Linked DNA regions of Homo sapiens: region 1 is linked to region 2. The links come from fine-mapping of genetic effects on plasma protein levels. Region 2 holds a variant in brackets. A gene starts in the other region. All regions are shown on their forward strands. Region 1 holds the start of CDCP1 (CUB domain containing protein 1). Region 2 overlaps ST3GAL4 (ST3 beta-galactoside alpha-2,3-sialyltransferase 4).

The links. PIP is the posterior inclusion probability: the model's chance that the variant is causal. Protein levels are from antibody-based Olink assays in UK Biobank. Linkage for the fine-mapping came from a reference panel and not from the study's own genotypes, which makes the PIPs less certain.
Region 1: it holds the start of CDCP1, and the variant in region 2 is fine-mapped to the plasma level of the CDCP1 protein (UK Biobank, PIP above 0.99).

Annotation. Positions count from the first base shown.
Region 1 is chr3:45,145,502-45,150,962 of GRCh38, forward strand. It overlaps CDCP1 (CUB domain containing protein 1), which reads right to left and starts at 877. Exons shown (of 9, transcript NM_022842.5): 1 at 705-877. The coding sequence starts at 786.
Region 2 is chr11:126,356,184-126,361,183 of GRCh38, forward strand. All of the region lies in intron 1 of ST3GAL4 (ST3 beta-galactoside alpha-2,3-sialyltransferase 4), which reads left to right. Among named protein-coding and RNA genes, the nearest start is that of ST3GAL4, 3.0 kb to the left of the region's middle. RefSeq lists enhancers at 1-624, 312-461, 2,111-2,852. The variant C/A (reference allele first, on the strand shown) is at 585.

The DNA.
Region 1 (5,461 bases), not on the chromosome of region 2:
CCTCCTGCCCTCAAAGTCCACTGCCAAAAAGTGCGAGGGGCGCGGGAATGTCCAGTCTCTGCGGTGGCGCAGATGCCTGGCGGCTTTCTCTGGGACCCCCTAAAAGAAATCCGGGCGCTTTCATTTTTGCACCAACGCTCTTCAACTTTAGGAGAGGGGGAATGCAGCGTGCGGACGGGAAAAAGGGGATCTAGTGGGAAATGCGGACGTGAAAGCACTTTTTTTGCACCTTCTCTCTGGACCAGGCGAGGAGGTAGAGGGCGAGCCTGGAGAGGAAAGATCTCTTCCCACACCCTGCCTGGGTGCTTTCAAGAATCCCGGCAAAGACCCTGGGGCGCACGGCGCGCCACCTTGGACATGTCGCCTGGGATCGGCTACCGGGAGCTCCTTTTCCCGCCTTCTCGGCCAGCACCGGGCTCATCCTCCCGGACCGGGAGGCTCCCCGATCGGGGACACTCTCACGTGCCGAGGGCAAGGTTGACTCCAGGAGGGCAAGGCCCACGCGCCCGACGCGGCGCGCGCAGGAACCGAACAGTCCGGGGGTCCCGGAGCCACCCGCGCATTTTGACTACGCCGTCCCCGCCCTCTCTCCGCACCCTCCGCACCCTCCGCACCCTGCGTCCCTCGGCCGCATCTCCGCCGGGCGTCCGCTGGCTGGCTAGCTCACCACTCCACGCCATCCGCCTCCAAAGCCCGGCACTCACCTGCCCCGCGCGGCAGGCGCGCCGCACCCAGCAGCAGAACCCCTAGCAGTGCGATAGAGACCCCGCAGTTCAGGCCGGCCATGACTCCGGGACGCCTCGGCCTCGGTGGGGAAAACGACGGTGGGGAGCGGCGGCCCCAGGCGCCCAAGCCCGGCGCAGCTGCGCTCCGCCCTGGCTCACTCACCTGCGCGCGGGCGGACCGGCCCGAGCCCCGCCCTGCGCAGCAGGATCGCGAGCTGACCCGGTGCGTCCCTCCTCTCTCTCCTCCTCCTCTTCCTGCCTCAGCGACCGCCTCTCCCTCCCAGGGTGCAGGGCTCCCGGCACCGGGTTGCTGGGTCCCTACTACTCCCCATTGCGGCGTTGGAGCGGACTTGTCCCCACCTTTCCGGGCTTAGTCTTCCTTCCCAAGTCTGAGAATGATGAGGTCTTTTTCTCCAGAGTCGCGAAGGTCGCCCATAGAGGAAGCCAGTCTACCTTCCCTTTTCTGTCGAGGAGACAAAGGCCATTATGCGCCTCGTTTTGGAGAAGAATCCTATTTGTGGGCCACCCAAGCCCTGGATCCTCTGCTACTTGACTTGGGCCAGAGGTCTGTTGGACTTTAAAGCCGGTGGTGGTACAGCTAGTATTTGCAGGACGGTGAGCCTGCAGCCTACTCCACACACATCACCTGCAGTATTTCCAGACACGCAACGTGTCCAAGGTCCCCAGGGTAGCTAGTAAATTAGAGGCAGATGCACCACTTCGTTGAATTGTGAGTAGAGTAGTATGCATCCCTTCACTGAGCTGTGGATGGAGTAGTATGTGCCCTTCTCGAGTTGTATTATAAATGGAGTAGTGTGTGCAGTGTGAGCGTGAAGCATTCAGGTCAAACGTTGGGCTGGAAAATGAATGAAAAATGAATGGCGCTGGACTCCTTTTCCAAATCCTCCCAGCCGCAGGTGTGCCACCTGCCTGTCTTCAGAGGCCCTGTGGGTTCTCCTTCCACCCTGCCGGCCATACACCAAGTCCAGGCCACAGGCAGAGATTGCGGATGGTTCAGGAGTTCTTAGCTAGCAGACCTGGGTTCTGCCAGAATGACTCCCTGGGACTACTTGTGTTCATGGATAGCCAGAAGCTGGGCCAGAGTCACCCGGAGCAACCTGGGAGGCTTGGGACAGGAACCAAAGCATGTGCGACAGCATCAGTTTACAGTCCAGTCCCAACTTCTGCTTAATTCTTGCGGGCACTGAGCCTCTCCAGGCTGCCCCAATCCTCCTTGTGGACAGGGGTGGGAAATCATCTCCTAGGAGCGTCACCCCTTCCTTCTCGATGTCCTTAATCATGAGAATAGAGCTAGCTCTGCCCTCTGGGAGCCCACAGTCCATCGAGGGAGGCAGAACTTGGAACATGACCCTGCCCACACCCCCACCTCTGGGAGGGCCTGTATCGTGAGCTAAACGGGACCTTAGATGTAATCTTCTAGTCCACTTCTGTCCTTGTGCAGAAAAATGGGAAAACTGAGAACTAGAGGGAAGGGAGAGGATGAGAAACGAAGAGAGGCTCTTGGTTCTCCCCACTGAATCGAGGACAAATTCATCAAGAGAAAGAAATCTTGACAAAAATCTAAACAATCTTTAAAAATATTTATGCTGACCAGGAGGGTGAAAGGAGATTTGTCTTTTCTCCTGATTCTAAGCAGGCATATATATCCCAGCATCTTTTCCTAACATCCATGACACCATTGTTTCCCACATACAGTAATACCCACAACAGTACTAGAATGGCAGTGTATTGAATGCAAAATATCAGAAATATTGCTTGACAAGTTAAGCCTAAGGAACAAGTTATTTCCTTACTATTTCGTCTCTCCAAAGTTTGCTTAACTGTCTTTCTTGGGATAGTTGACACCAGCTTTCTGAAAATGGAATGAGAGTCACTAATTCCCAAATATGAAGCATTGGTGGTGGTTCCAGAAAGTAGCAGCAACGAGAAAGAAGAAAATAGGGAGGCACTTCAGCATCCTTTGCGTGACAACCCAACTACATAGTTGAAGTAAAGATGTCCTGACATACTGTCCTGGTCCTCCAAGTGGAGTGTGAACAAAGCATTGCCAAGAATGGACATGTTTTGTCTTTACAAACATGGCTGAATGGAAGGAGTAAATTTTAAAAGGTTATTTCTGAACTGGAAAGCAACGTAGGTAACTATAATCTAGTGCTAGAGAGAAATGAGAGATTGAAAGGTAAATTTTCGGCTGGGTGCAGTAGCTCATGCCTGTAATCCCAGCACTTTGGGAGGACAAGGTGGGTGGATAACTTGAGGTCAGGAGTTGGAGACCAGCCTGGCCAACATGGCAAAACCTCATCTCTACTAAAAACACAAAAATTAGCCGGCTGTGGTGGCGGGCGCCTGTAGTCCCAGCTACCCAGGAGGCTGAGACAGGAGAATTGCTTGAACCTGGGAGGTGGAGGTTGCAGTGAGCTAAGATTGCACCATTCCACTCCAGCCTGGGCGACAGAGTAAAGTTCTCTCTCTAAAAAAAGAAAAAAAAAAAAAAGGAAGGTGAGTCTTAAAACAGACTGTCCCATCTAATTTTGACCTCTTCTGAAACCCTGCAAAGGCTGTAAAACAGGGATTAAAAAAAATTACATAAGCCCACAAAGGTGGGAAGAACAGAGAGAAGACAACAGCAAAATCACCCTGGAAGCTAGACAGCAGCTGGACTAGTGGTAGCTGCCTTAGGAGCCTGGAGATGGCAGAACCCTAAGCCAGTAGTGGGGAAAACTCAGAAATAACACGATTAACACAGAAATCCTCAAAAAAGATCCTCAGGAAATGGCAGCACAAGGTATTCTGCAACTGGAGGGTGAAAGAGGAGTTAAACAAGAAAGGCTAGAAGAAAGCTGTTTGAGAAGTACTGTGGTTAGATCCCAGAACCCATCCATCATTACCCTTGCCTGGGCAACAGTCCCTCGTCCAGCTTCCAGTGTTGTTCTTGAGAAATCCAAAACCATTCTCATTTTTATTATTTTCTTTGAGACCCTTTTCTTGCCTCTAAAGCTGTAGAATCTTCTTTTTGTTCATTGGTTTCTGAAATTTCACCATAATGTGCCTTGATGTGAGTCTGCCTATATTATCGATCTTTAGATCTTGACAAGTTAGAGGGTTGGTAAGCTTAACAACTTTAGTGTTGTCTTCTGGAGAGATTAAAACCTAGGGATGTGGGCTGAGGGATGCCAGGCATAGCTGAAAGCATAGGAAACATTGTAAAAGTAGGTAAATAAAGGGAAGATATGCATTCTGAATGCTGAGATCCCCAGCTGTCTGGCCCCAACCTGCATCCAAGGATGAGACAAAAAGGCTTTGTTATCCATATTGGGGATGGAAAAAGTCTTCTTCTGGGGAGTCTGACCAGCACAGGAGGAAAGACCCAAACATATGGACATTAGACCCTCATAAACAGGCCAACCAGCTTCCTACCATGAGGCTTTCAATTAAGCCCCACCAACTTAGCTTTTTAATATCTCATTTTAATTTTAATTTTTATTTATTTATTTTTTTTGAGATGGAGTCTCGCTCTGTCACCCAGGCTGGAGTGCAATGGCGCGATCTCGGCTCACTGCAACCTCTGCCTCCCGGGTTCAAGCGATTCTCCTGCCTCAGCCTCCCAAGTAGCTGGGACTACAGTTGCACACCACCACGCCTGGCTAAGTTTTGTATTTTTAGTAGAGATGAGGTTTCACCATGTTGGCCAGGCTGGTCTCGAACTCCTGACCTCATGTGATCCACCCACCTCAACCTCCCATAGTGCTGGGATTACAGGCGTGAGCCACTGTGCCTGGCCAATATCTCACTTTTAAACATGAGCAATCAGGATTTCAGGATATCTGAGGAGAGCTTCTAACATATTAGAGTCAAAGCCAACCAAGTAACCAAACCGAGAAAAAAGAAAGAAAGAAAGAAAGAAAGAAAGAAAGAAAGAAGCAACCTGAAAGACTATACAAAGAGAAGAAAATAAAAGGAAGCAAAACAAAAAAATTACTAACTCTCTTAGAGTGATGTAGGCAACTATAATTTGGTGTCAGACAACATTCTCTCTGTGAAGCAGGAACAGCATGTTATAAAAAACAAAACAAGGCCGGGTGTGGTGGCTCACACCTGTAATCCCAGCACTTTGGGAGGCTGAGGCGGGTGGATCACCTAAGGTTGGGAGTTTGAGACCGACCTGACCAACATGGAGAAACCCTGTCTCTACTAAAAATACAAAAAATTAGCCAGGCGTGGTGGTGTGTGCCTGTAATCCCAGCTACTCAGGAGGCTGAGGCAGGAGAACCACTAGAACCCAGTAGGCAGAGGTTGCAGTGAGCCAGGATTGCACCACTGCACTCCAGCCTGGGCAACAAGAGCGAAACTCCATCTCAAAAACAGAACAAAACAAACAAAAAGATTCAGAGAACCACAAAAGAATTATTGGAAATGAAAAAAAGTGATTGTAGATAAAAAAAATAATAATAAATAAATAGAAGAGTTAGAAGTGCTCCCAGAAAGTAAAGCAAAAAGACAAAGAGATAAAAAGTAGGAGGGAAAAGTAAAGAAAATTTGAGGTCCAGTTCAGAAAATCCAACATCTGAAAAATAAGTTTCCTAAAAAGAGAGAGCAGATGAAACAGAGGAGACGACATCATCAATAATATAAGTGAAGAAATTCTCCAGGCCTGAATGACATGAGTTTCCAGATTAAAAGAGTCATGGAGTGCCCTGCACAATGGATAATATAGG
Region 2 (5,000 bases):
TTCTCCCACAACTACCCCGGTCAGGTCCAGCACTTGGGAGCTGACTGTGCTGGAGGTGACAGGCTTTGCGGGGTCCGCCTGTGTGCAGGAGTCGCAAGGTCGCTGAGCAGGACCCAAAGGTGGAGTTGTCAGTGGGAGGCCGGCTGTGCCCAGGGTCCTAGGGCCACGTTATGGGGGTCGTCAGGCCTAGGCCACTGTGCCTCAGGGCTGCATGGGTGGTGAGCAGTGGGAGGGATGCGATGGGGGGAGTGGGCTCAGCTGTCTGCTGTGGGTGTTTCCTCGGGGACCTGGCTGGCAGGGACCTCCCGGCCAGCCCAGAACTGCCAACATGTCTGCCAGCACTGCCCCTCCATTCCCAGTCCTGGGGGGAGGCTCTGTCTGGGCAGCTTGAGGCCTGACCTACTGTGGCTGCTTCCTCTGCTCCCCAGCCTGGGTCCTGAGGGCCTGGCTTAAGGGAACTGCTGCCAGAAGGCTGGGAGTGTAGGCAGTGTTCGGGTGCCCAGCTGTGCCCTGTCTGACCTCATGGCCACCCACAAGCTGGCACCCCCCACAGGCCTCTTGGGGAAGCCTGTACTTTCCACCGC[C/A]GGAGGCGGGTACCGCGTGGAAGCCAGGCTCAGGCGGACTCATTCTTTTTGAACTTTGGGAACAGGCCTGGTACAGGCTGAGTTCTCACAAGAGACACACACCCGTGTCACTGTCTCCTGAGCTGTGCCGGACCCGTCCTACAGACTCCACCTCCTCTAGGTCCTGGCCCTGGCATCTGCCAGGGGGATTTTAAATGAGTTGATATATGCTAAGTGCTTTGAAAGGCGCCTGCACGGAGGGAGAGCTGTATAAATATTCACTATTGGTAATATTTCTCCCATGCTGTTACTCTCCAAAGCTGCCCGATAATTCTAGAGTGGGTTCCGGGGACGTGCCCGCTGTTTGGGGCCTAGAAATGAACTCGGGAGGTTGTTTTGCTTGCTGAGAGCTGGTCTGGGAATGCCCCTTGACCGTTCCCTGCCCTGCTCCTGGCCCACTCCCAGACTGCTCCTGTGCCTGGCCCCATTGCGCTGGGTGGGTGATCCTAAGCTGCCCCATGGGCCCTGGGCTCTGTCAAGACATGGGGAGCTTGCCAGGAGTTGGGGCCAGATCCCCCAGACTCCAAGATGGTAACCGAGGTTGTGAGGGTGCACATGGAAGGAAGAGTTAGAAGAGTGAATTGGAAATTGCCAGCTTGGACTTTGGGCAGAGTGGGTGTCTTTAGCTTGGGGATGGGTTGTTGTTCAGAGACAACAGGGCCGCCTTCTCTGTGAGCTGGCGGCCCAGGCTGAGGTGCCTCTGGGCTGCCTTCCCTACGGGAAGCAGTGACTGGCCCTCTGCTTCTCAGGAAGAGAGTGCCGTGCCCCCGCCAGCCTCCCAACCTCGTTAGACTCCTAGAATCCGGTTTTCTGGATAGAACTAAGAATCTGCTCCTTTCTGGACTTTTAATCCTGGAAAGGGCTCCCTTCCCCAGCAGGAGCAGAGAGACCAAACCCCCTTTCTGTGCTCCATCTTGAGCTGTCATTCTGTCCTAACTCCCCACTGGCCACCATCTGCCCTTGCTTTGGGGGCTACCCCAGGTCTGACTTGGGCACGTTCTCTGGGTCTCTCCTCAGAGAGGCTGCTCCTGGGGTTGTCCCAATGGAATTGGGAATTCTTCTCAGAATGGCTCAAAGGTTTGCACCATCTGTTGGAGGGAAGGGATCCCTCTATCTTGGACTAATACAAATGTTTCCGTGCCTGCCAAGTTCCAGACCCTGGGCCGATAGGGAAAGGAGCTGGCTGGGGGGCCTGCAGGGGATGGAGAGGGAGCTTGGGCCCCAAGTGGGGTCTGAAGTCCAAGCCTACAGATTGCCATCAAGGCAGCCGCTAGAGCCTAGCCCAGCTCCTGGCCCCTCGGAGATGGACCTTAGATGCTGGAGAGCGGGGCAGTCCAGCAGTGCAGGGTGGGACACCCCGAGCAAACAGCCCCTGCTTCCTGCCCCCTCAGTTCAGTCGCACTGGGCCGGCTGGACGTTTCCCTGCAACAGGCCCCTGCTGGTGGTTTAGCTCCCGCTCCGTGTTTCCCTCACGCTGGGATCCTCCTTCCTACTCAAGACCCACGACCTTGACCTGAAGCTTTTGGTTGCCGGGAGGAAATGGTGAGTGTAGGCAGATTTGGGTGACTCTTGTTATTAACCCCCTCTTCTTTGTTGCCCCCTTCCCAGAGGCTTCTGTATGAGTGTCCTGAGTGGCCCTGGATGGACTACTGGCTGTCCCTGGCCTCAGAATCACCCCAACCCCTGCCACATTTCGGGGAGGGAGGTGTGTGAATGATGTCCTTTATTCTACAGACTGAGGAAGTGGTCAGTGTAGCTTCACGTGAGAGCAGCAGCGTGCGATGCCCAGGCCCTAGCCAAGTGCTGGTCAGCTTTCTGACTGGAGCCCCTGAGCCCTGCAGGGGCTGAATTCCCCCAAAGGTTGCTTGGGTTGTTGCATTTCGGGGTTAGAGGGTGTGGGTGTCCAGAGCTGTGGGTTTTTAGTGTTGGCTGAGCCCTTTACCTGGGACCTACAGCCTGGCCACAACCCCATCTCTGTTCCCCTGTACCCCACACTGCCCTGTGATAGGATGTGATAAGATGGTAGGATTGCCTATACTGAAGCCCTGGGTGCCACTGCTGGCCCAGCAGGGAGGAGGTTGCTGCTGCTCGGGCTGAAGTGAGGTGTGGGTCTGGCTGGGCCTCCAGTTTCCCACCTGGGCCTTGATTGTGAGGAAGGCCTGGCCTGGCTGCAGAAGCCCAGAAGCACCTGAGTAGGAGAGTTCCTTTGTCCCACCTGCAGCTCATTCAAGCCTGTGCATGGGGGTTGGGGTCCTCAGGATCTTGCTTTCCTGTTTAGGGGAGGCAGCCCCAAAGAGTGCTGGGACCAGTTTGGAGAGTGCTAAGGAATGCTGGTCTGCAGCGACCCTACTTGTGCTCTGCGTCCTCTGCCAACTGCAGCATGGGTGAACATCTGTACATCTGTCCCCATAATGAAAATGGCCTCAGCAAATAACAAAAATATTACCATTTAGCAATCAGGCACTTATTAAAAGCCTGGCCCAATAAACTTAAAAAAAAAAAAAAGATGTGCTAGACACTTTACGTCCCTTCATGTGAGCTTCACACAACCCTGTAATTAAGCCCATTTATAAATGAAGAAATGGAGGATTGAAGGATTAAGTTACTTGGCCAAGGTCATACAGCTCGTAAGCAGCTGAGCTAGGACTCAAATCCAGGCTTGCTTCCAAAACCTTCACTTTTCAGCCCAGTTCTCAACTGCCCCCTGGAGTTTGCTCATTTTGCCCCATGAAGAAACAGATCCCAGCTCAAAGGCGTGAAGGGGTTTGCTCAAGGCCACAGTGTATTAGTGTCAAAGGTGGAACACAAACCCTGACCTCTGAGTGCTCTCCCGAACCCCACATCCCGGCCGGGCCGTACCCTGAGCACACGCTTGTCCGCTTTCTCAGCTGGGCGGGGCGGGGCAGGACAAGGTTCTTCTCCCTCCCTCCTTCCCTCCTTCCCTCCTTCCCTCCTTCCCCGTGGGCCCTCCCAGCCTCCCCAGCCCCCACCTCTGCTGCTTTCCCTTGGCAATTGCTTCCATCTGGCCTGCCTGCAGCTCCTATTCCTTTGGAAATGTGGCTGCCGCCCACATGGCTGCAAGGCAACCACGGCCACACGTGGGGAAGGGGAGGGGCCCTATGGGGTCTAAGCACAGGGAACCCAGCCAAAGTGGCTGCTCCTGGCGTCTGGCATCCTGATTCCTGCCAGGCAGAAGCACCTTGGCTGCCTGGCCCTCCTTGATGCCCGTCCTGGGCTGGCTCAAGGCCAGAGAGGCTCCCAAAGACCCAATTCTCCTTCCAACATGGTGAGCTGTTTTGCCCACAGACAAGCTCCGCACCGGCAGCCCTCCCTGTCTCTTAGAGGTTGCTCAGGTTGGGAGGAGGGATTCCTGGCAGGAGAGAATTAGGGGCCAGCCGGGGTATACCCTGGGTTCCCACTGGGTTCTGATCATTTGGAGGGAAGTCATGCAAGGGACTGACGAGGGCAGAGGCTGAGGGATCCGCGGAGTTCTGGGCAGGCGAGGAGGCAGCTGACTTGCTCATGACTGTGGGTATGCGCCACCACACTAGGCTAATTTTTCTATTTTTTGTAGATACAGGGTTTTGCCATGTTGCCCAGGCTGGTTTTTGTTTGTTTGTTTTGTTTTGTTTTTGAGACAGAGTTTTGCTCTTGTTTCCTAGGCTGGAGTGCAGTGGCGCGATCTCGGCTAACTGCAACCTCCATCTTCTGGTTTCAAGTTATTCTCCTGCCTCAGCCTCCTGAGTAGCTGAGATTACAGGCACCCGCCACCACGCCTGGCTAATTTTTGTACTTTTAGTAGAGACAGGGTTTCATCATGTTGGCCAGGCTGGTCTCGAACTCCTGACCTTGTGATCCGCCCACCTCAGCCTCCCAAAGTGCTGGGATTACAGGCGTGAGCCACCGTGCCCAGCCGAGCGTGTCTGTCTTGTTCACTGGTGTATTTTCTTAATGCCTGGAATGATGTCTAGCAAACAATAAGCACTCAATAGATTCTTGTGTGATGAGTGATGGAAATGCAGCTCAGGTATGCTGATTTGTCTTTGCTGCATCTTTACTTTGCTTCCTCCTCCCAGGGCAAAGGGAAAAAGTTTCCCTTTTGCCAGTTGAGCTGTTTGCCAGAGAAAGGTCTGGCCCCATCTGTGTGCTGCCACCTTGGGGGTCTCTGTTCAGACCTCAGAGAGGCAGGCAGGAACCCAGGTGAGGATGGGCAGGAGCTTGTCCCCTGAGGAGTGCATGCCCCATTCCACCCACCACAGGGTCGGCTGGCCACATTTCTCTACCCATCACCCCTCCCTAGTAACCTTCAGGTCCCTGCAGACAGGTCCTGACCTCAGCTCCAATCCCTATGTCAGTCCTCTCCTTATTTGAGGCCCA